7 linked regions of the Homo sapiens genome follow. The protein of the gene in region 7 purifies or fractionates together with the protein of the main gene of each other region. This does not show direct contact. Each region holds a gene or a part of one and is shown on either strand. Other genes may lie near its edges.

The links.
Region 1: the proteins of SINHCAF (region 7) and ARID4A purify together in Homo sapiens (affinity purification with mass spectrometry; 4 studies listed by BioGRID and IntAct, with this or other methods). This does not show direct contact.
Region 2: the proteins of SINHCAF (region 7) and BRMS1L purify together in Homo sapiens (affinity purification with mass spectrometry; 4 studies listed by BioGRID and IntAct, with this or other methods). This does not show direct contact.
Region 3: the proteins of SINHCAF (region 7) and SIN3B purify together in Homo sapiens (affinity purification with mass spectrometry; 4 studies listed by BioGRID and IntAct, with this or other methods). This does not show direct contact.
Region 4: the proteins of SINHCAF (region 7) and TNRC18 purify together in Homo sapiens (affinity purification with mass spectrometry; 4 studies listed by BioGRID and IntAct, with this or other methods). This does not show direct contact.
Region 5: the proteins of SINHCAF (region 7) and SUDS3 purify together in Homo sapiens (affinity purification with mass spectrometry; 4 studies listed by BioGRID and IntAct, with this or other methods). This does not show direct contact.
Region 6: the proteins of SINHCAF (region 7) and SIN3A purify together in Homo sapiens (affinity purification with mass spectrometry; 5 studies listed by BioGRID and IntAct, with this or other methods). This does not show direct contact.

Annotation. Positions count from the first base shown.
Region 1 is NC_000014.9:58,361,055-58,364,554, forward strand, and holds part of ARID4A (AT-rich interactive domain-containing protein 4A), read left to right. Parts: coding exon of another isoform or gene 1-48; intron 49-3,115; coding exon 3,116-3,500.
Region 2 is NC_000014.9:35,829,338-35,832,837, forward strand, and holds part of BRMS1L (breast cancer metastasis-suppressor 1-like protein), read left to right. Parts: intron 1-457; exon of another isoform or gene 458-570; intron 571-1,343; exon of another isoform or gene 1,344-1,443; intron 1,444-2,072; coding exon 2,073-2,163; intron 2,164-3,500. UniProt on the Homo sapiens protein: Involved in the histone deacetylase (HDAC1)-dependent transcriptional repression activity. When overexpressed in lung cancer cell line that lacks p53/TP53 expression, inhibits cell growth.
Region 3 is NC_000019.10:16,877,624-16,880,849, reverse strand, and holds the end of SIN3B (paired amphipathic helix protein Sin3b), read right to left. Parts: coding exon 3,211-3,226; intron 2,668-3,210; coding exon 2,460-2,667; intron 2,354-2,459; coding exon 2,123-2,353; 3' UTR 501-2,122; downstream 1-500.
Region 4 is NC_000007.14:5,308,835-5,312,334, forward strand, and holds part of TNRC18 (trinucleotide repeat-containing gene 18 protein), read right to left. Parts: intron 535-3,500; coding exon 298-534; intron 116-297; coding exon 41-115; intron 1-40.
Region 5 is NC_000012.12:118,404,055-118,407,554, reverse strand, and holds part of SUDS3 (sin3 histone deacetylase corepressor complex component SDS3), read right to left. Parts: intron 1-3,500.
Region 6 is NC_000015.10:75,406,691-75,410,190, forward strand, and holds part of SIN3A (paired amphipathic helix protein Sin3a), read right to left. Parts: coding exon 3,444-3,500; intron 3,302-3,443; coding exon 3,146-3,301; intron 455-3,145; coding exon 365-454; intron 1-364. UniProt on the Homo sapiens protein: Acts as a transcriptional repressor. Corepressor for REST. Interacts with MXI1 to repress MYC responsive genes and antagonize MYC oncogenic activities. Also interacts with MXD1-MAX heterodimers to repress transcription by tethering SIN3A to DNA.
Region 7 is NC_000012.12:31,316,151-31,319,650, forward strand, and holds part of SINHCAF (SIN3-HDAC complex-associated factor), read right to left. Parts: intron 1-3,500. UniProt on the Homo sapiens protein: Subunit of the Sin3 deacetylase complex (Sin3/HDAC), this subunit is important for the repression of genes encoding components of the TGF-beta signaling pathway.

The sequences.
Region 1 (3,500 bases), on a different chromosome or scaffold from region 7:
CTCGCAGCAATATACCAGACAGCTCACCTCTGTCAAATGGAATGGAAGGTGCTCAATTTTGAGGATGGCTGACTTTAAAAAAAATCAATAACATAAATAATAAAACTTCCATTGTGTGAAATATTCACAGTACAGGTTGAGTATCCCTTGCCCAAAATGCTTGGGACTAGAAGTGTTTTTGGTTTTTGATTTTTTTTTTTTAATATTGCATATACATAATGAGATATCCTAGGGATAGGACCCAAGTCTAAACATGAAAATTAGTGTTTCTTATACACATAGCCTGAAAGTAATTTTATACCATATTTTTAATAGTTTTGTTCATGAAATAAAGATTGTGTTATTTGAACCATCAGAAATCACAGGTATAATTGTCTCAGCCACCCATGTGAACAGTCTGTGATTGTTTGGCATCACTGTTATTCTTGACTCTGAATTTATATGCCAGCTACTGATAAGCAATTTTCTTACACTTATTCACACATAATTACATAACAGTAAAACATATGACTTACAATTAATACAGTGGAAAAATTGTGTGGGGAAACTAAGCAGCAAGGTAGCATCACTAGAATACCTGTATCAGCTGCTAAACAACAGCAAAAACAAACAGCAGGCTTTCAGTCTCCACCTACGATGCTGTGTTTTCATTAAAAGGTTACCCGTACACTAGCTTGGGGTTGCTGAAGAAACTGTTGTGCACCTGTGTTTGGATGCAATGTGTCCCATGAGGTCAGGTCTGGAATTTTTTACTTGTGGTGTCATGTTGGTGCCCAAAAAGTTGTGGAATTTGCAGCATTTTGGATTTCAGGTTTTTGGACTAGGGGTGTTCAACCTGTAAATCACCTAGGATTTTAATCTCATATGATTTAAACTATAAAATTTGATTTGAAGAAAATATTTTGCTGTATCATTTTTATCTAAAATTTAGTGATGTTTTCATTTAGGAATACTTTTTCTCATAAGTATCTTGAAAATAATATATTTTAATAGAAGGTGAATTGACAATCCATGCATCCTAATGTGTGCTACACTTTCCCTCAAAGCCTGTACCAGTGTATCCTATAAATTCAATGCTGTTCATCTGGGATCTTTCAGCAAAGCTGAGACCATGTGGTTCTAAGAGAACACAGACTACTGTGGTGCAGGCATGTTTTATAATGAGTATAGGTGAACATATTTTATTCTGCTTGTACTCGTTTCCCCCACTTTTCTACCTCTGTATACTTTTAAATGTAATTAAGAAATTTTAGGCTGAGTGCAGTGGTTCATGCCTGTAATCCCAGCACCTTGGGAGGCTGAGGCAAAAGGATCACTTGAGCCCAGGAGTTCCAGACCAGCCAGGGCAACATAGTGAGACCCCATCTTTACAAAAAAATTTAAAAATTAGCCAGGCATGGTGGTGTGCACCTGTGGTCCCAGCTACTCAGGAGGCTGAGGTGGGAGGATTGCTTGAGTCTGGGAGGTCAAGGCTGCAGCAAGTGTAATCACATCACTGCACTCCAGCCTGGGTAGCAGAGCAAGACCCCACCTCACTCTGTTGCCCAGGCTGGAGTATAGTGGCGCAATCTCAGCTCCCTGCAACCTCCACCTCCTGGGTTCAAGCAGTTTTCCCACCTCAGTCTCCCAAGTAGCTGGGACCACAGGTGTGCACCACCATACCTGGCTAATTTTTGTATTTTTAGCAGCAATAGGGTTTTACTATGTTAGCCACGCTGGTCTCGCACTCTTGACCTCAAGTGATGTACCCGCCTCAGCGTCCTGAAGTGCTGGAATTACAGGTGTGAGCCACTGTGCCCGGCCACCAAAAAAGAAATTTTAAATGGTTGTCTTATATAAAAATTTCTCTTCTTTCAAGAAAAAAGCTATACTGAACTACATGTTTGCTATTAGTCCATATGGTGCTTGTGTGCAAATTATAAAAGGACATCCTTCCTCTTTACTGCCATCTGCTGACAAATGTTTAAGATGTCCACAAAGTGAAAGGTACCCTCTTAGAAGGCATACCTGTGTGCAGTGTCCAGTCTATACAACTACATACCAGCCTTATTAAACTACCACTGAAAGGGATTTTTTAAAACATGAAAATGAATTCTACATTCTGTTTATGATAAAACCACAAAATAAAACTGTATACACCTTTTCACTAAAAAATTCATGTTTGCAGTTTTGAACTTCTTGAGGATTTGAGCACCATGTGGACAATATTTTTATATTTTTTAGATCCTATACAGTCTTAGAACCCTACTTTACTATTTTACAAGTTCCCTTACAGGGAACAATTTTTGTTTCCTGTACTTTCTTGTCTGTTAAGAATATTTAAAGTTTTGAGGATTCCAATTGCCCATTTTAAAAACTTTTCTTGCTGGGCACGGTGGCTCATGCCTATAATCCCAGCACTTTGGGAGGCTGAGGTGGGCGGATCACTTGAGGTCAGGAGTTTGAGACCAGCCTGGCCAACATAGCAAAACCCCATCTCTACTAAAATACAAAAATTAGCCGGGCGTGGTGGCCTGCGCCTATCCCAGCTCCTCAGGAGGCTGAGGCAGGAGAAATGCTTGAATCCAGGAGGCGGAGCTTGCAGTGAGCTGAGATCACGCCACTGCACTCTAGCCTGGGCAACCAAGTGAGACTATGTCTCAAAAAAAAAAGAAAAGAAAAGAAAAAACCTTTTCTTTCCACAGTTATTTTAAGTAGAATGTCATATTCCTTTCTTAGGGTACAAAATGCCCATCATCTGTCCTTCCTAGATACTATCTCAAACCACTTAACAAATTAACTTCATGTCTAGGATGTCTAGGTACTAATCTTTTGATCTTTTTTAAGGACTATTGTACCTAAATATGATACTGGGGAATGTTGCAAAATAGCTTTTCATATAGATTTGAGTTAGTAATATGCAACGTAATATATTTTTGCTTGGAGCTTAGTTTCCCCTCCCCCTCAAATTCTTGGCACAAATGTTATGATTTGTTTTATTTCAGAAATTTCTACAGGGAGGTATTCAGAGGTACATGATTAAAGATTTTTATTGTTATTTTTGGTAAGATTTTTATTGTAAAATTACATTGGTAATATAAAAACCTGTATAATATAATAATATTTCCTCTTACAGACTCTTGTTCATCTGATAGTGAAACAGAAGATGCTTTAGAAAAGAATTTAATAAATGAAGAACTTTCTCTTAAAGATGAACTAGAAAAAAATGAAAATTTGAATGATGATAAGCTAGATGAAGAAAATCCAAAGATTTCTGCACATATATTAAAAGAAAATGATAGGACTCAAATGCAGCCTTTAGAAACCCTGAAGTTAGAAGTTGGAGAGAATGAACAAATAGTACAGATTTTTGGGAACAAAATGGAAAAAACAGAAGAAGTTAAGAAAGAAGCCGAAAAATCTCCAAAAGGAAAGGGAAGACGAAGCAAGACAAAAGATCTTTCTTTAGAAATTATAAAGATTTCATCATTTGGCCAGAATGAAGCAGGAAGTGAACCTCA
Region 2 (3,500 bases), on a different chromosome or scaffold from region 7:
TAAAATTCTCCCCCTATAATTTTTATGTTGACTCTTGTGATTTTTAACTTTTAAAAATTCCATCCCAAAAAATAATGAACAACTTAATTTTTGAAGAATGTGATAATAATTTGAACTACAAGTCAAAATTTTAAGTGCAAAGAAATTGTTTAAATAAATTTTGCAGTTTGCTTCTGTTAAAGCATCTCTGTTCTACCATATGTCTTTCATGTTAAACTTTCACAGTGTTTTCTTCTCAAATGTTGGTGCTGAGCAAATTCTAAGGCTACGGAAAAGCCTCTACTATCCAGAGAACTTGGATAGTGAGTCATCTTGAGGGACCAAGTTTTGAGTAGCCAAGAAGTAAGCAATCAAAAGCCAGAAGTATTTTTAATCTGTTTTAGAAAATGAGAAAAAAATGAGTCAGCCTTCCATGTTATATAAAAATAATTGAACATGATTTAACTCTTTCTCATAGTTTGACTTTTATTTGATGAAGATCAAGATGCAGATCATTTTGTGCTTCAGTTATTTTGATGAATGAATATATGTGATATGAACATAGAAAATGTGGACTATAGGACAGACCTGGTAATTAACAGTTGCTTTCCTTAAAAAGTTTGTATTTTCCTCCTCATTTGCCTCTTTCTCACTGATAGTAATATGGGTAGACGGAATAAGGGAACGTAGGAATGGCAGACCAGGAGAGCCTGTGGTAAACATAATAAGATTAGTTTTCCTTTTTCTTTTTCTTTTTTTTTCCTTTTTTTGAGATGGAGTTTCGCTCTTGTTGCCCAGGCTAGAGTGCAATGGCACGATCTTGGCTCACCACAACCTCCACCTCCTGGGTTCAAGCGATTCTCCTGCCTCAACCTCCCAGGTAGCTGGGATTACAGGCATGTGCCACCACGCCCAGCTAATTTTGTATTTTTAGTAGAGATGGGTTTTCTCCATGTTGGTCAGGCTGGTCTCGAACTCCTGACCTCAGGTGATCCGCCTGCCTCAGCCTCCCAAAGTGCTGGGATTACAGGAGTGAGCCACCATGCCTGGCCTTTCTTTCACTTTTTATTTTTGAGACAGGATCTCTGTTGCCCAGGCTGGCGCAATCTTGGCTCACTGCAACCTCTGCCTATCAAGTTCAAACGATCCTCCCACTTCGGTCTCTCGAGCAGTTGGGACTACAGGCATCCACCACTATGTCTGGCTAATTTTTGTATTTTTATTAGAGATGGGGTTTCACCATGTTGCCCAGGCTGGTCTTGAACGCTTGAGCTCGAGCAATCCTCCAGCCTCAGCCTCCCAAAGTGCTGGGATTACAGGCATGAGCCACCACACCCGGCCACTTTTCTTTTTTTATGTGACAGGCAAATCAGCCATGTGAGCAGTTCTGAAAGAAGAATCCCAAAAATGTTTTTGAGCAATGTTAGCCTTTAAAGGACACAGTCATTTTGGTGCTACATTCTGGTGAGTTGGTGGAAAACAAACCAAATGTGGGCTAATTACTTTATAGTTATAGCTTATAGTCAGTCCTTTAAAGTGATTTAAAAATGAATAAAAGTAAGAGGGTCTAGAGACCAGTATAGTTTTATATACTCATCTGTATTTTAGATTAAATCTATAGTGGATTTTTTTTTTTTTTTTTTTTAGACTAGGTCACTCTGTCACCCAGGGTGGAGTGCAGTGTCACAATCATGGCTTACTGCAGCCTCCAACTCCTGGGCTCAGGCGATCCTCCTGCCTCAGCCTCCTGGTAGGTGAGACTACAGGCTCATGGTACCGTGCCCAGCTAATATTTTTATATTTTGTAGAGATGGGGTCTTCCTCTGTTGCCCAGGCTGATCTTGAAGTCCTGGGCTCAATCTGTCCTCCTGACTTGGCCTTCCAAACTGCTGGAATTAGAGGCATGAGCCACTACGCCCAGCAGAAATTATTATTTTTGATAAATCTTGTTTATTTTCTTTTAAGGCTTAATATAGGTCTTCTCTTCATATTACAGTTTTTCTTCCTATTTGAATTACGTTCAGATATATTTGAGATGTTCAGATAAATTTGAAAATTAAGTTTATCTTTTATATTTGCCTTTTTATTAACAGAAATGGATGATGAAGACTGTGAAAGAAGAAGAATGGAATGTTTGGATGAAATGTCCAATCTTGAAAAACAGTTTACCGATCTCAAAGATCAGTAAGTAGTGACTTTAGAAGGCCATTGTCACTGAATCTCAACCTTGTCACTTGTATACTAGCACAAGAGCAACTAGATTCAGTCTCAGCTGTTTTGTATTTTATGCGACAGACCAATTTGAAAGAGGCTTCAACTATTGTTTGTCTACTAAAGACCTCATTAACTAAACTGAGGGTTTGGAGGCAGGGTTTTTTTGTGGGCTTGAACCCAGGAGTTGGAGACCAGCCTGGGCAACATCGGAAGACCTGGTCTCCATAAAATATTTAAAAATTAGCTGGATGTGGTGGTACGTGCCTGTGGTCCCAGCTACTTGGGAGGTTAAGGCAGGTGGATCAATTGAGCCCAGGAGGTCAAGGCTGCAAGTGAGCTGTGCTCGTGCCATTGCACTGCAGCCTGGGCGACAGAGTAAGACACTGTCTTAAAAAAAAAAAAAATTAGTTCTGTCCTGCAGGATTATTGCCAAAAATAAACACTGAGTTGTATCATACTCTAAAGGTATTGGTGACAGCTGGCAAATTAGAGTATTTGTAAGTGGCCTTATAAATAGGAGTAACAGGGACCTCCTGCCCCATTTTTGAGTTCCTTGTTCATTGAGCAACTAATTTTGTTATGGCTTCTTCATTTGTAGTTGAGACAAACTTAGTATGTCAGGTCATAAAAACATTGGTTTTACCTTCATTAGTCTACTTCCTCTTTGCTCTTTTAAAAAATTAAGTAGGCTGGGCCGGGCACGGTGGCTTACGCCTGTAATCCCAGCATTTTGGGAGGCTGAGGCGGGTGGATCACGTGGTCAGGAGATCGAGACCATCCTGGCTAACACGGTGAAACCCCGTCTCTACTAAAAAATACAAAAAAAAAAAAAAAAAAAATTAGCCGGGCGCCTGTAGTCCCAGCTACTCGGGAGGCTGAGGCAGGAGAATGGCGTGAACCCAGGAGGCGGAGCTTGAAGTGAGCGAGATTGCGCCACTGCACTCCAGCCTGGGTGACGGAGCGAGACTCCGTCTCAAAAAAAAAAAAAAATTAAGTAGGCTGAATACAGTAATACTGACTCCTTTTCAGGAACGGTAGAGAGAAGCCAAGTAATTATTTATTTTGACAACTGGTAATGTCTATTCAAAATGATTTCTTTGTTTCTTTTAAACTCAGTGTTTAAATGACCTTTTCTCTTAGAATTGGTTTTATTGTTCTGTGGTTAAAACAAAAACAAACATTAATAGTGCCAAAAAGTAGTTATTTCAATTTTATTTTTTTGTATTGGGAATTGACCATTAAAGAGTGATAGATAGATACCTGTTTTGTGATTATGTGCATAAAGTCAAATAATGTAACTGAGTTCT
Region 3 (3,226 bases), on a different chromosome or scaffold from region 7:
GGGGCTTCTGCTACCCGGAAGCAGGTGTGGAGCTTGGGATGCAGACAGGGGGCAGGAGATGAGGAGAAAATGATGGTGAAAGCCAGGAAGTGGGTGGGGCCCCAAGGAGTACAGAGGGTGGTCGTGTGGGGTGGGTGGGCAGGCATGGGCCTGGACGGATAGGTTGGGCATGGGAAGCTTAGAACAAACACCTTAGAGCAAACACCATGATCTTTAAATTGGGTTCTGCATGAGAGACACTCGGGCGAAGGAGACGCTTCTAATTCCCACTAAATGTGCAAATGGAATGGGGAAAGAATATTCTAGAAGACACTCCCATGTCGTGGCGGGGCAGGTGCAGGGTGTGAGATGATCTTGGTTCAAGGAGGGGCTTCGACTCCCCTGGTCCCAGGTAGGCACACCCAGCCACCCCTTGCTCTCATGGGTCCAGCCCACTGACCTGGTGGCAGGAAGTCAGCAAGGCTCTCACAGGAAGACCAACACACCCTCACGGCTTGATGTCAATATTCAATTATTAACTTTAATGTGCAAATAAATAGAAAAGGAAAACTACATTCAAAACAGCTGCAAAGGAAGGACAAGCCCCAGAACAGAAATTCCTCAAGAACGGAAAAGAGGCGCTCCCTAGAAGCATGCGGGGATGGGAATACTGGGAGGAGGGGCTCGGCGGGGTCTCCGGCTGCACCCGGGGCCCAGGTGGCTCTGCCCGAGACGGCCGTGGGCCTGGTACAGGAATCTTGATGGCAAGTTCCCTTCTTAGAAAACCAGGATGTGTACAAAGTGCCTGTGTGACACTTGGGGAGCGGGGGTGGGGAGCCCAGGAGGACGGGTCAGCATCGGAATCGCCCAGCCTGGAGTCAAAGGCATCAGGAGCCTCCAGGTTCCACAGGAAACTTCTAGAAACACATCTCCACTTCCTGGAAACTTGAGTCCAGCTGTTGCAGGATGGCAAGGGTGGCGGTTATTCTGGGCCTACTGGTGTGCAGGGGCCAGGGCCAGGGGCTCTCATGGTCGGGGAGAGAGGCCTGGAGAAGTGGTCCCCAGCCCCAGTCACTTGGGATTCTTGGCACAGAAAGCCTTGGATGCCTCCATGGGACAGTCGCCTCAGCCCCTCACAAAAGGACAACAATGATCCCTGGAGTGGCCGCGTGGGTCCCAGGGTGGGTGGGCGGATGGGGCTCCTTGGGTGGCGGCTGGGACTGTCAGGGCGGCTCTCGGAGTTCCACAAAGGGAGATCTCAGCCCCAGGGAGCCGCAGGACTTGGCTGCTACAGAAATAACAACCACTAAAAGCGAAAGGAATAAATATCTGTGCGTGTATACACATACGCCTAGGGTGCCCACTGCAGGAACACGACTGGGCCCGCCGCCCCACAGCAGGGTCGTGCCGGCTCTGAGGGAATACTGGCTGGGGTCCCTCCCCTTGTGGGCCCAGAGTCCAGCTGCTGGAGTTGGGGTTGGGTGTCTTATCCAGAGCGGGGTCTCCCAGGGCACTGCCCGCCTGCTCCAGCTCTGGACTTCAAAATGGGATCCCAAAGGTTTGGCTGAAGGGTTCTTCTCACTTCCAAAGTGACTGAGGGCCTGAACACCAGCCAGGCAGAGCTGATGCCCAAACCCTCAGATGATGTTTCTGGCAGCTCTGAGAATATTCTGGAAGGACTCACTTTTCAAGCAAGCCTACCCAGGGCTCAACTCCTTCCTTGTCAGGGTCTCTTGGACATGGACCCCCTCCAAAGTGTGGGCCTCAGGAGGGCTGTCACCTGTGACTTTTCCAAGACACGGCAAGAATATGGGGCAGGAGCCATCTGCCTGCCAGGGATTTGGCACATGTGACGGACGGGGACGCAAACATGATTGCTTGTTCCTCGGCCAGCACGTCCACCCGCCCCTGTGGTGGGGCTGAGCCCCAGGGCTCGGGTGCAGGTAGCTCAGGTTTGGCACACAGCAGGCCCACAGGAGACCGGGAGCCACGGGGGCGGCGTCCTGCCCTGGAGTGCGCTGTCCGGCAGCAGAGGGGCTGGGAGATGCCTCTCACGTCGTTCAAGAAAACGGCCCCGACACGACCAAGGCCGAGGGCACGTCTGTGCTCTGTGAGGCGCCTGCCCGGTGCCCATGAGGGCGGGTCAGGGCGAGGCCGGGCGGCGGCTGTACTGCACGCGGTAGCGGGTCACGGGCAGGCCGTGCACGTGCACTGTCTCACACAGCGTCTTGCAGGGTACCATGTCCTCGTCCTCCTCACCCATCAGCCAGTCCTGCACCAGGCTAGCCGCCTCCACCGTCACATTGTCCTCCAGCCAGCGGCTGTGCCACTCCTCAAAGTGCTGGTGGTGGCGGAGCAGGACCAGGGGCTGCACCTGTTGAAGAGGCCGGGTGTCAGGGCAGCTGAGGGCTGGACCCCCAGGGCCCCAGGACTTGGGGTGAGGAGGGGCATGTCGGGGCAGCCCAGGCCTCCCCTGGCACCTGCTTGGCCCGGCAGAGGGTCCCGCGACGGTACATGTAGTCCTCGGAGTTCACGATGAACACCATCTTGTGAGTGCTGAGCTTGAAGCGGCAGTCCACGTCGCAGGCGCTCTCCACGCCCACCAGCCGCTTCCAGGAGCTCCTGGCCTCACCGCGCAGGGCCCGCGCCTGCTCGCTCTGCCACCGGCGGCGGAACTTCTTGAGGTTCCTGGGGGCGAAAGGAGGTGGAATGGACTCTGGCTCTCGGCATTGTGGGAGGAGGATTTGCAGGCTGGGAAACCCCCAGGCCTGGGACCATCAGAAGATGTGCTACCTCCCAGGGGTCCACAGAAAGCAAATGGAAGCAACAAGAAATGCCCCCAGATCTGAACACCCACCAGCAGCCCCCACTGGTCCCATAGGTGCCATCCTAGCCCGACCTGAGGTGGTCCAGGGTCCTGCCACAGCCACCCGCCTCTGGCCTGGCCCCACCAGCTCTGGCAGCGTCTCCCTCCAGTCCGGGCATTCACTCTTCACCCACTGACGCATCGTGGGGTTGGCCTTGCCCCTCCTACACCTCACCGTCCTGGGGTTACTAATCCCTCCACTGCAAACCACAAGCCTCAAAAGGGCAGGGCCTGCCTCAGCACACAGCAGGCACCTACTAAGTGCTCCCAGACAGTGTGCCATGGTCCAGCCCCCGTCAGGACAAAGGGGACACTCCCTGGGCCCAGGAAGGAAGGAACAGAGCATGCATCTCAGGGCCTCTTACCTCTGCAGGAACACAG
Region 4 (3,500 bases), on a different chromosome or scaffold from region 7:
CATCCCCAACCCGCCCACCACCACCACCACCACCACCTACCTCCATGAAGTCCTTCCTCTGGCTGGAGACCCGCAGGGCCGCCGGGAGGCTGCGGCTGGACTTCTGGTCCCAGTGCTGTGTGGGGGAGAGAGGAGGGGCTTGGGTGAGCCCGGGGGCTGCTGCACCCGACCCCAGGCCCCAGGACAGGGCTGACCCACTGGGCAGGGCTGCTGATGCTCCAGCACCCAGAACGCCTCGCCCTCAGGTCTGCCCTACACCGCCTAGGACTGGGGGCCGCAGCCGGGCCGCAGGCTCACCTGGCCCTGGTGGAACTGCTTGCCCGGGCTGGTCTCCTCGGGGTGGTAGAACCACTTGACGCGGACCACCATGTTGTTGCCCCACGACTCCCACATGCTCTGGATGCGGCCGATGTAGGGCAGGTTGGGGCGGCCGGCAGAGAGGAACACGGCACAGTCCCCGATACGGATCATCTCCTTGCCGCGCACGATGGCCTTGTAGAAGAGCTTGCGGGCCTTGCCCTTCATGCCACGCCGCTGCAAGGACACGTGTGTCACGGCACAGGCCCTGGCCCAGCCCCAAGGAGCCCGCCGCCTGGCAGGCTCTGCCGCTTGGGACTCTGGGCCCTCGGCCTCTAAATCAACCCCTATCCAACTGTGGGGAGATGAGGAAGCTCCTTGTCTCGCTTCAAGTGGGGAAGCCCCTCTTCCATCTCTTTGACATGCTGGGTCTCCAAGAGGCGCTTCCCTTGATCTAAGCATTCTGCCGCTACAAGACTTCTTATTTTTGAGACAGGGTCTCCCTCTGTTGCCCAGGCTGGAGCGCAGTGGCGCCATCATGACTCACTGCAGCCACGAACTCCTAGACTCAAGAAATCCTCTCCCACCTCAGCCTCTGAGGAGCTGAGAATACAGGCGCACACCACGCCCGGCTAATTTTGATTATTTTTGTAGAGAACAAGGTCTCACTATGTTGCCCAGGATGGTCTCAGACTTTTGGCCTCAAACCACCCTCCCACCTTTGCCTCCCAAAGCACTAGGATCGCAGTGTCAGCCACTGCACCTGGCCTTATTTTTCTTTTGAAAATTACTTTTTTCAGAGAAAGGGTCTTGCTCTGTCACCCAGGCAGGACTGCAGTGGTAATATCATAGCTCACTGCAGCCTCGATCTCCTGGGCTCAAGCCATCCTCCTCCCTCGGCCGCCTGAGTTGATGGGATTACAGGAATCCACGGCTAATATTTTTATTTTTGTAGAGATGGGGGTCTCACTATGTTGCCCAAGATGGTCTTGAACTTTTGGCCTCAAGTGATCCTCCCACATAAGCCACCCAAAGAGCTGGGATTACAGGCGTGAGCTACCACACCTGGCCTTTTTTATCTTTTAAAAAATAGTTATTATTATTATTATTCTTTTTGAGATGAAGTCTCACTCTATCGCCCAGGCTGGAGTGCAGTGGCACGATCTTGGCTCACTGTAGCCTCTGCCTCCCAGGTTCAAGCAGTTCTCCTGCCTCAGCCTCCCAAGTAGATGGGATTACAGGCGTGCACCACCACGCCTGGCTAATTTTTGTGTGTGTATTTTTAGTAGAGACGGGGTTTCACCATGTTGGCAGGGTGGTCTCGAACTCCTGACCTCAAGTGATCCTCCTGCCTGGGCCTCCCAGAGTGCTGGGATTACAGGTGTGAGCCACTGCGCCCGGCTAAAACTATTATTTTTTTCAAGACAAGGTCTCACACTATTGCCCAGGTTGGAGTGTAGTGGCACAATCACAGCTCACTGCAGCCTTGACCTCCCAAGCTTAAGTGATCCTCCCGCCTGGGCCTCCCAAAGTGCTGGGATTACAGACTTAAGCCACTGCACCTGGGCAAGAGAGACTTGAAACTCCATTCTAGAGCAGCTTTGGAAATGCTGCCTGAGACACCACTGACCCCTTCTGGAACATGCAGGTGCTCCTGCCCCACACCTACAGCACGTTGGGGGCTCCCTGCCAGCCTGTCTGAACCACCACTTCTCACACTGGGTCCTGCCATGTATATGTGCCTGTGTGTGCACATGTTCATCTGTGCATTTGTGCACGTGTTCATGTGTGTGCACGTGTTCGTGTGTGCACGTGTTTGTGTGTGTGCACGTGTACTCGTGTGCATGCACGTGCATGGATGCACGTGCACGCATGTATGTGCCTACGTTTGTGTACGTGTGCAAGTGTGCATTTGTGTGGGTGTAGTGTATTTGCATATGTGTGCATGTTCATGTTTACATGGTTCATGTACGTGCCTGCATTCACATGTACATCTGCATGTGTGTATACTTGCTTTTGTGTGTGGCTGTATGTGCATTCATGTGTACATGTGCACACATATGTGCGTGTGTGTGTGCATGTGCCCATGCTTTTGAGTGCACTGTGTGCAAGTGTGTGTGCGTGTGTGTAGACAGCCACAGGCAGGCTGGAAGGGCTCCTTCTGAACAGCTAACCCACTGCTGCAGGCAGGGCACACGGGACCCCGACCTGGCCAGCCAGGACTTTGTCTTCCAGGCCATATTGATTCACTCAGGGGTGGGCACATGATCCTGGCCAGGCCAAGGAGCTTCAATCTGGACTTTTGCTAGCAAACCTGGGAAGGAGGTACCTTCTGCTGGGACTGCCACACTAGTGGCCAGGAGCCCGGGGCGTGGCTGGGAACACTCAAATGCCACACACAACAGGCTGTCAGGCCCCGCACCTGGAATTCCAGCACTCTGGGAGGCTGAGGCGGGAGGATCACTTGAGCCCAGGGGTTCAAGACCAGCCCAAGCAACACAGTGAGACACTGTCTCTACAAAAATATTTAAAAATCAGCTGGGTAGCATGGTGGCACATGTCTGTAATCCCAGCTACTCAGGAGGCTGAGGCGGGAAAACTGCTTGGGCCCAGAAGTTCAAAGCTGCAGTGAGCCACGATGGCACCGCTGCACTCCAGCCTGGGTGACGGAGCAAGATCCTGTCTCTTAAAAAAAAAAAAAGAAAGAAAGAAAAGAAAAAGCCAGGCGTGGTGGCTCACACCTGTAATCCCAGCACTTTGGGAGTCCGAGGCAGGCAGATCACTTGAGGCCAGGAGAGTTTGAGATCATCCTGACCCACATGGGGAAACCCCCATCTCTACTGAAAATACAAAAATTAGCCAGGCGTGGTGGCGTGCGCCTGTAATCCCAGCTACTTGGGAGGCTGACGCAGGAGAATTGCTTGAACCCGGGAGGCAGAGGGTGCAGTAAGCCAAGATCACACCACCACACTCCAGCCTGGGCAACAGAGAGAGACTCAGTCTCAAAAAAAGAAAAAGGAAAAAATCCCAGAGGCCTGGAAAGCCCCTTCCACGTGGCGCCGACGCCTGTGGGTCTGTGCTGATCTTTGCACGTTTCCTTCATCTGGGCTCCACGAGGGTGGCTCTGCGTCCCGGGACCAGAGGGCAGGACCACTCTGCTCTGAAGGACTCGGGCATCGGAGTCCGACAGACCCAGGTGCCTG
Region 5 (3,500 bases), about 87 Mb from region 7:
GACTTAAAAGCGAACACCCAGAGTAAACAATGCAAGCTGGTCTATTACCTCTGGGAAGTGGTCTGGAACTTGGGAATGTGGCCACCTCCCAGATCCGCCTCCTTTGGAATCACTGAATGGTGGTGGCCTGAATGTCCACCATTGGTCCCTATTTGCTCCAAAGTAGAGGTGGCCAACATGCTTCCCAAAGCAGCCAACTTCCAAACCAACTGATCACCAGGTCCCTCCTGAACCGCAGTCTCTGAGACCTTCAAGGGATCCTCATGCACTACACGATGTCTTGGGGGAACCATTATCCCTAGATACCAAATCTATTAAATTATTTGAATTCTCTGAAAAGATAAGTCCTTAGATATTAAAGTGTTCAGGGCTCATACCTGTAATCCCAGCACTTTGGGAGGCTGAGGCAGGAGGATCACTTCAGCTCAGGAGTTTGAGGACAGCCTGGGCAACATAGCAAGACCTCATCTCTACTAAAAATCAAAAAAACATTAGCCAGGCATGGTAATGGAGGACTGTAGTCCCAGCTACTCGGGAGGCCAAAGTGGGAAGATCGCTTGAGCCAGGGGGATCAAGGCTCCAGTGAGCTATGATCACACCACTGCATGCCAGCCTGGGGGACAGTGAGACCCTGTCTCAAAAAAATAAAAAATGAAGTGTTCATATGGGGGGGCGGGGGCGGTTAAAGATGAAACCAAGAAGTATGTGACAACCTTAACATAAGAATTTACTTTTTAATTTCTAAAGAAAAATCAAAGGGGGGGGAAGAAATTTAAAAATATGTTTAGATATAAAATGTGCTACGAAGCAACATCAACAGGGTAGTAAAAATGTGCGTTTTTTTTTTAGGCCAATTAACCTGTTTTACAAGCTGCAACTCAGCTGCTGAAAAAAGATATTTAAATAGCCTCAAAGACTAAGCCCCAAATGTCAAACTGACTCTATTACTTTGTAACTAATGGAAATTCTGACCTGGGAATCTCTACAATTAAGTTCTTAAAGCTTTGAACCTCTACTATTAAACCGAACAAAACTAGAAATTACCACTACTGTACTATTTTCGAAAAGCAATTTCTTAAGAAGGTGGACACAAAAGTGGGGCGAGGAGGTAGGAAAATTAATTTAATTTTGTATCCTACTGAGAATCCTGGTATTAACACTTTATTTCCCCAATAAGTGAGTCCACGTTATAGCTACAGAACCTCAAGGAGTCCCAATTCTACTGGTAAATATTCACTGTTTTAAGTCTTTTGTGTCGACCGAAGGCTGAAGGGGAAAATGCTCTTGAGCAAGTGGGTGGCTTCGTTTCTGACTCACAGGCAGCCCCAGATTTAAAACAAGGAGAGAAAAACAGAAGTCCACCCGTACCATCAATTAGTTATTTTCAAATATCAGCTACTTTTTCACAGTATTTTTTGAGAGATCATTAGTCCAAATCAAAATGTGAGGCAAATTTACATAGCATGATATAGAATGCCTTAAAAGCAGTATAAGACCAAGGCAAAGGGAAGATCCTTATCTTTCAAAATGAAAGGGAGCTTGGCAAGTATTCACACCAAGATGCGATGCCTGAATCCCATTTGTTTTGCTGAAGTCATTTAAAACTCAGGAAGACATCTTCTGCCAAAAATACGGCTGCACCAAAATACTCCATACCCTCTGGAAAGAGCATAAAGCAATGTAGCTGACCTCTCAGCCACAGGCCACGTCTGCCAAAGAAAGAAAAACAAAACCTCCAAACTGATACAAAAGCCAAACATGAGCCTGGTGAGATGGGAGAGGCTGGCACTGCACCAGTGAACACCTCAGCCAGTATTCCCAGGAACACTTTTCAATTGTCATTGGGGAAGAGGGAGACCCACCTTCAACAACTGCATTATGATCTCTGACTGCCAAGGCCAAAAATGAAAAGTATACAGAATAGAGAAAAAAAACAACATTCTCAAAGTATATTTAACAAGAGAATAAGCAATTTCAATTTCACTGAAAAAGTAAAATGCATCCAGTGACATTATTTTCTAAATTTCTGCTGTTAATGTAAGAAAGATGGTGAAAATTCCTTCAAAATGCTTAGGAGTTCTAACACATCAAATCTGATCATTTTGTTTACATTAGGAAACACCAGACATTGTGGATCTCTTCTTTAAAAAAACAAGAATTTTATTTTACTGCATTTTCACCCTCAAGACATGTCTCGTAAAGTCTGAGGATTAAGCTTAGAAAGAGGAAGATTCAAAGCAACACAATTACAAAATGAACATCACTGGAAATATCACATGGCTTTAAGACTCATAGATTTGTAAAAATGTTAGTGATAAATCTCATCATTTTCAAAGATGGTTCTTATGTGTGGGCTTGATCTTTAAAGGTTATTTGGTTTTCATTATTAGAAACATTTTTCATCTCATTTTGCCCTTCTCAGTGTTAAGCTGTTAGAGCCTGCCACCTAGTGGCGATGTGTTCTGAGACATAATGTTAAGATATAACACAAACCGACCTTTCTGAAGAATGCCAAAGAACACCAACTCAGAGGGGAAGAAGTCATCAAGATCAGCCTTAGAGATAAAGCCAGCCTCCAGCATCTACTGGGCAATTAACTCACTGCAACTTAATAGGTGGAAATGATTTACTTCGGCCATGACTAGAACCCTAAGCATTTTTGACAAGTACAATGTTATCGGGTAACCAACCTAACACAATGCTGGGTTTTTTTAAGAATTCAAAATAAATAATCATTACCCCAATTTTGGAACTTTTGGTTAGATACTGAAACTCAAAGGGTCATTATATAGCCATTATAAATGATAATGAGACACCTTACAGTAACCCAGAAAAACATTCTCAATATAACCAAACAGAAAGGCAAAGCAAACCGTATGTCCACTATGCCTTAGAATGAATAGACTATGCCTGCATATGGATAAAGAATAAAAAGAAATATATCAGAATGAAAAGACCTGAGAAATGATGGCAGTATCCATTTCATATCTAGCAGAAAGCGTAATACAGAACAGAAGAAATGTTTGTTGAATGAACAAAAGTATGAGCTTTTAAGGTTCTTTCATACTGTTTTGCCATTACCTTTCCAATGAAAAATGCTAGGCGGTCTGAACGTTTCAAAGAGTCTTCAATGTAAACCAGGAATGCAGGACACAGTGGCTCATGCCTGTAATCCCAGCACTTTGGGAGGCCAAGGCAGTAATATCATGTGAGGTCAGGAGTTCGAGACCAACCTGGCCAACATGGCGAAACCTCGTGTCTACTAAAAATACAAAAACTAGCTGGGCATGGTGGCGGGTGCCTGCAATCCCAGCTACTCGGGAGGCTGAGGCAGGAGAATCGCTTGAACCTGGAAGGCGGAGGTTGCAGTGAGCCGAGATTACGCCACTGCACTCCAGCCTGGCGACAGAGCAAGACTCCGTCTCAAAAAACAAAAAACAAACTAGGAATGTTTTAGGATACAGTTCCCCCAAGCAAGTGTCCTTGACCACTTTTGCAGC
Region 6 (3,500 bases), on a different chromosome or scaffold from region 7:
AAAAAAGATTACAAGTCATCTTAAATCCTCAAAAATTGGTACAGGCACTGGTACTGCCTGCCACACAGACCTGGATATCTACAATGGGAGCTCCAAACATCTTTCAAGAGAAACATAATACATTTTCTAAAAATCTGTCTTCTGCCCCAAACTGCTTCATAAAACCAAAGCAAACAATGCTACCATTTTTCTAGCTATGCTAATAGTACTAGCAGACTCAAAGGACTCACAACTGGGAAACTATGTTAAAAAACAGAAAGTCCTAATTAGCCTGACACCTTTAAAACGAAACCTTCCAGGGGGATAAGATGATTTTCTTTTGGCATTAACAGGCACTATCAAATCTAACTCATCCATTACTCACCTTATCAAAAAATAACGATTCTGTTCCACCACCATGTTTGCTGGCATCTGCCATAGAAGAATCCTTCAGATTGAGCAGTTTGGGTTTCTTCTGCAAAAGAAAGATACAAACATGTGAGATTCAACGAGTGGTTTTCTCTGAATTTTATTTTTGTCTGTATTCAATGGTTTCATCACTGAAACCACTGCTGATTAATAATTTGAAACAAATGAGAGAACTCTAACCAACTCACTCCATACCCTCTAAGATTTCAACTCATATTTTCTATTTCAGTTTGCCTATTAAGTTTCTTTCTACAACAGAGGTTCAAAGATCATTCTACCCCCAAAATATTTTCTCCAGAAATGATCATGACATTACTGTGACAAACTTTTAGAATATCCTTACTTTTTCTAGGGGCCCAAAGTAACTTCATGTAGAATCTAATGCCACTGTTTTGTTCTCCTACCAGCTGAGGGAGAAAAGGCTGTTTGTAAAAAGAGCTCACAAATTGACAGAAATCAATCTTTAACCCTGAATAATATTTCAATTAAAAATTTACTTAAAAAGCATAATTTGCTGGGCATGGTGACTCATGCCTGTAATCCCAGCACTTTGGGAGGCCAAGGTGGGCAGATCATGAGGTCAAGAGATTGAGACCATCCTGGCCAACATGGTGAAACCCCGTCTCTACTAAAAATACAAAAAAATTAGCTGGGCGTGGTAGTGTGCGCCTATGGTCCCAGCTACTCAGGAGGCTGAGACAGAAGAATCGCTTGAACCCAGGAGGTGGAGGCTGCAGTGAGCCGAGATCACGCCACTGCACTCCAGCCTGGGCAACAGAGTGAGACTCCATCTCAAAAAAAAAAAAAAAAAAAAAAAAAAAAAGGCACGCCAGCAATATCCACTCAGACTAATTTAATATTGTTCTTCTAAAGGGAACCAACAGGCCATGATATAATCCTGTCAGGCAAGAAGTTACTTTTAAAATCCACCACTTACTCTCTATGAAGAAATGCACAAACTTTGTGAGAAGTAGCACATTTACCTTGGCTATCTCAGAGTATACTTTCTTAAGAGCCGCAGCCTCTGCTTACACTGCCTATGGAGAAAGTAGGCGGAGAATTTTAAGCCCCCACTATATTCTTGCCACCTGTAGGTAATCAAGAGTGGGCGGACGTAAATCCAAGCATGGAGTGTATCTACTGAGCTGATTCTTGCTACCCATATAACTAATTCTCTTTATTGAAATGAAGAAATAGAAACCATTATTATGTTCAACTTGATTTCAAAAGATTTCAAAAGAAGAAACCATGACAAACACTAATGAAAAGGATACTTCAAAAGTGTCAGTAACACCTAGTACGTCAGACCTTGTAGTCAGTCAATCACTATTCATCAGCCACCTCTTACTATTAGAAATTCCCAAACTTTTGTCATTATTTAATTCTGCAGACATATCTGTCTCTTCTATATTACATACTGCTTTGAAATTCACTGAAGAATTAAACATTCAATACATACAACTAGCCCTCTCCCTATCATAGCTGTGTTACATCAAAGAAGGGAGCAAGCTAAGTTTTCTGCAGGCAGACCATCAGTGTTAACTATAACAAAAAACATCATGTAATGGATTACTAAGAGGAGTTTAAGACTTCCCTCTGCTACAGCCCAAAGGTCCTGCCTTGGAGATTAAGATGATACACATAAGATCTGGTAACCCAACAAAGAACTTTGAGCAGGACAGGGTTCTAGACCAGAGATCTCAAAAAACACATGCACTCTACTCACAAGAGGACCTCAGAGACCACTTATTTCTGAAATAATTCTCAAGCTCAAGAATGTTCTTTCTTAACACAAGGCAGATTTAAAGCATCAAAGAAGAAGGGGCCAGGCGCGGTGGCTCACGCCTGTAATTCCAGCACTTTGGGAGGCCGAGGTGGGTGGATCACCTGAGGTCAGGAGTTCAAGACCAGCCTGGCCAACATGGCGAAACCCCATCTCTACTAAAAATGCAAAAATTAGCTGGGCGTGGTGGCACACGCCTGTAGTCCCAGTTACTCAGGAGGCTGCGGCAGGATAATTGCTTGAACCCGGGAGGCAGAGGTTGTAGTGAGCTGAGATCACACCACTGCACTCCAGCCTGGGCGACAGAGCAAGACTCCATCTCAAAAAAAAAAGAAGGGAAAAAAATTTCAAGTATTGGAAATTCTTAGTAGCAACCAAAACATTAAAGAAATGACAGCTCATTGCAAAGGAGAGATAATAAAGAACTCAGAAAAGTACAGTAATCCAAGCAATCAATGTTATTCTAATACTCTTTTGCAAAGCCAGATAAACTCTGCACTGAGTTTCTGTGACACAATACTAACTTCCTCCAAATATCTAGGACCCAACCGTTAACACACTTAAGAACACATGACTGCCGGGCACAGGTAATCCCAGCACTTTGGGAGGCCGAGGCGGGCAGATCATGAGGTCAGGAGATCGAGACCATCCTGGCTAACACGGTGAAACCCCGTCTCCACTAAAAAAAAAAAAAAATCAGCCCGGTATGGTGGCATGCGCCTGTAGTCCCAGCTACTCGGGAGGGCGAGACAGGAGAATCGCTTGAACCCGGGAGGCAGAGGTTGCAGTGAGCCGAGATCGTGCCACTGCACTCCAGCTTGGGCGACAGAGCGAGACTCGGTCTCAAAAAAACAAAAAAAAACAACAACAACAAAACACATGACCACCTCTAGAGTACCTCTCCATTAGAAATACTTGTGAGTGTCAAAATGAGCAGCTGCTGCCCATTCTCACCTTAACTGGAGGGGTGGTTCCTGTAGGATGTCTGCGGATCTGGCAGCCATTCTGGCTGGGCCTCTGCGGCTTGTTGTTCAGTTGGGGCTTCTTGACAGTGCCTCCATGATCATTTCTCACAGAATCAACCTTCTCAGCAGTTGTTTTGCTTAAAAGCTGATTAAGACACATGAATGAGATTAATGCTCTTATCAAAGCAAACAAATATCATCTAGGAAAAGTCCCCTTCTGAGCACAGTTTTCCAACTCATCTAAGATAATAATAGTAAATAGTGTAATTCTTATTAAAAAAACATACCACGGAGCTGTTGGCATCTGGTAGGAATTGTCCAAACTCTGACAACAAATCTTCCTG
Region 7 (3,500 bases):
CAAGAGCAAAAATTCATCTCAAAAATAAAAAATAAAAAAAAAACCATGCCATAATTATAGCTCTGACCAAATAAACTGAATATCCCAAAGTTAAAAAAGATTAAAGGTAATAGCTAAGTCAGCAAAAGCAATTTAAAAAGATAACTAATTATATGGACAATATATATAAACAAAAAAATAAAGTTTTAAAACACAACAATCAATTCTAAACATCTGTTTTGGCTGATTTGTAGGGTTTTCTTCTACTTTAAAGCTGTGGGTTTCATATAAATTTAATGATCTTAATGAATCTAACTTAATGAATCTAACCTTGGTGCTGATGAGTCAAGAAAGGGATGAGATAACCACAATATATCAAAGACACAAAAGGGACAATTCTAATCCCATCTAATGAAATTGGGAAGCCAAAGATCAAGAATAACGTCTAATTTTACATCTAATTAAACACATAAGTTTACTGAATATAATAATATACATAGGAAAGAAAAAGAGTTTCACAGCGATAGTTTATATTAAAGACGCTATTTAAGAAAAGTTTTCTGATAAATAAGATTAAAGATTATCTCTTATAAATCTCAGCAATACTAAATACTTGTTCATTTTAAGCTCCAACCAGGAAACAGAATGAAAAATACTGAAATGCAAATTTTAGAGCTTTAGTACCCTTTTTAATATGGAATAGGAGACAGAGAAAAGGTGATGAATTTAATTCAACTATTTTCTTGTCTTTTTAAATCTTTATAAGGGTGTTAACTCACATTTAAGGATATGGAGAGGGTTCTTATTACGATGAATTTAACATATGTTAAGTTCACCTTAGTTGGCATGCATGCTTTGAAGGACATCATTATTTACTCTAACTTCCCCAATTCCACTTTCTAGATTCCTTCTTCTGGCTTTTTTATATATTCAGAAGTAAAGCGTTTTTTAATATTCAAAAGTACCTTTCAAAACTCAGTAATACCACTGGGTGGACTAGATGGAAGAAAATTGAGAGCAATAGTCAAACGTGGTAAATAACAGTTAACTTCACAACTGTCCAAGTCATCTTGGGAACTGAAATTCTGATATGCACAAATTAGGGGAACAACCTCCCAAATGAAACTATCCTTAAGTTTCCAATAAACCAAAACCCTAGCTTCTAATTATCATTTTTTTCTTTCTAAAAATCAACTGGCCTAAGTCTTTAAAAACAAAAAAAAAACACAAGATAGTTGAAGTGACTTAAATGTCAACGAATTTTCAGACTGGTTAAATTATGGTTGAAACACCACAGCACGCTGTTTCAACCTTTAAAGCAAGTTGAACAGTAGTAATACAGTATAATCTCACAGGATGTTTTTAAAATGAGACTGTAACTACACAAACTTCTTTTTAAATTGGTTCTTAAAAATAGTAAATAGTGGTTGCCTCTGAGGAGTACAAGCATAAAAGAAGCTTACTTTCACTTTACTACCTCCTGCTTTTTTTTTTTTAACCAAGAGCATCACTCTCCAATAACCTTGGTTATCAAGACACACCTTAAGAGTAATCTAAAAAAGCACAGAGAGCTTAAATAAACTTCCTCAAAGACATACAGATGGAGAGATACAAATTAGAAAATACACTCCATGGGAGAGACTACGAAATAGACTGGTAAGATCTAAATACACACAGAGCAGAATGGGAAGGAAACTGCAGACAGGAGACAAGCGAAAGATTTGTAAAGTGGGAAGGAAGCAGCAGTGAACAAAGACAAAAAGAACTAAGCAACCAAAGACAACTTTGAAGTGAAGGAGATGCATTTCTTTAGAGCCAAACTAGAAATCATGATGATGGGAAAGGAAAAGAAATAACACGAAAAAATACTCGCGATCACAAACTGTGGGGATACTTGAGTTCCTGTAATTGGTAATGCCACCACTGACACCATTTTAGTCAATCATATGCTATCATTAATCACATTTAAGTACAGCATCCAGTAAACACTAACAGTGTAACTGGAGCAACACTTTTCACAAACGGTCAACAGGACTAAATGCTTTGTATTCTCCCGCGGCTAGGCTATTTGGCTGCAGTATTCCCCAATAATGAGACATGTTTCATCTGCAGTTAAGGAAACCCATGGAGCAGTAAGACATTATTTCCTCTTACCTGCTTCTAGATAGCAGCCTACATCTCAGCAAAATTCCTGAATTTAGCTAACTTTAAGGGATAAATGTAAATCTGTCTAGAATAAAACTGAGAAAGGGGTAGCAGACCCCACTTGTTTGCCAACAGCCTCTTCAAACATGTGCCCTGTCTCTGAGAAATTATATGGTAAAGCATTTATAACTGTGGCTGTCTATGGAATCCACACTTGGCAGAAGAGCCTAAAACTCATCCTATATAGGAAAGAGGTCAAACTCAGAAATAAACAAGTCTTCAACTGAAATGGCATAGGTTAAAAATAAAATTACAAATTCAAGTCTCTGGGCTTTAGATAGTGTAAAACACCAGGCCCCTCCAATTTTGGTAGAGCGAAAAAAAAAAAAAGAGAAACAAAACTAGGTCTCCCAATTCTAGATTAAGAGGAATTCCAGTACATGAAAAAAAAAACTGAAAGTGTCAGAAAGAATATTTATTTGCTTTTAATGGATGATTATGAGTTAGAAAATATAACCATACTTGGGTCTGCAATGAGTCAATTTGGAGTATATTTCTGCTTCTGTCTTTACAACTAAATAGGAAGTCACTCCTAATTTTATTTGCCCTTCTGTAACATTGGGAAATTCTGTTTATTTCCTTGAATTTATAAGAGTTGCACATTACAGAAAAATAAATGCTATCTATCCCAAGATATATACAACAAATTTAACTGAAGGTAAAATTCTGATTACTAAAGATTTTCTTTTAAGCCCAGGTCTGTGGGAAAAGAGGAACTTAGCCTTTTCAGGGAGACTTTAAGGTCATGAAAAGCCCCATATACTCCTCTATGAAGCTGTTCTCCCATTTTCAAACTTGAGAAAAATGTTAAGAAAATGGATACATGATAGTATACACACCTGATTTGACCCAAACCTCAGGAAAGTTCCTTAACCTCACTAATCCTGTTTCCTCATCTATAAAATAATGACAGGCCGGGCACAGTGGCTCACGCCTGTAATCCCAGCACTATGGGAGGCAGAGGCAGGTGGATCACCTGGTCAGGAGTTCGAGACCAGTCTGGCTAACATGGTGAAACACCGTTTCTACTAAAAATACAAAAAATTAGCCCAGCCTGGTGGCGTGCGCCTGTAATCCCAGCTACTCAGGAGGCTGAGGCAGGAGAATTGCCTGAACCCAGAGGCAGAGGTTGCAGTGAGCCAAGATCGCACCACTGAACTCCAGTTTAGGCAACAAGAGCAAAGCTCAGTCTCAAAATAATAATGACAAATCCAAATCTCCTGAATAGTATCTGTAAAGCATCAACACAACATCAACACAAAGATCGGCACAAGGTATGCACTCAGCTCTGACAATTCTTTTTACTCACCAATCTT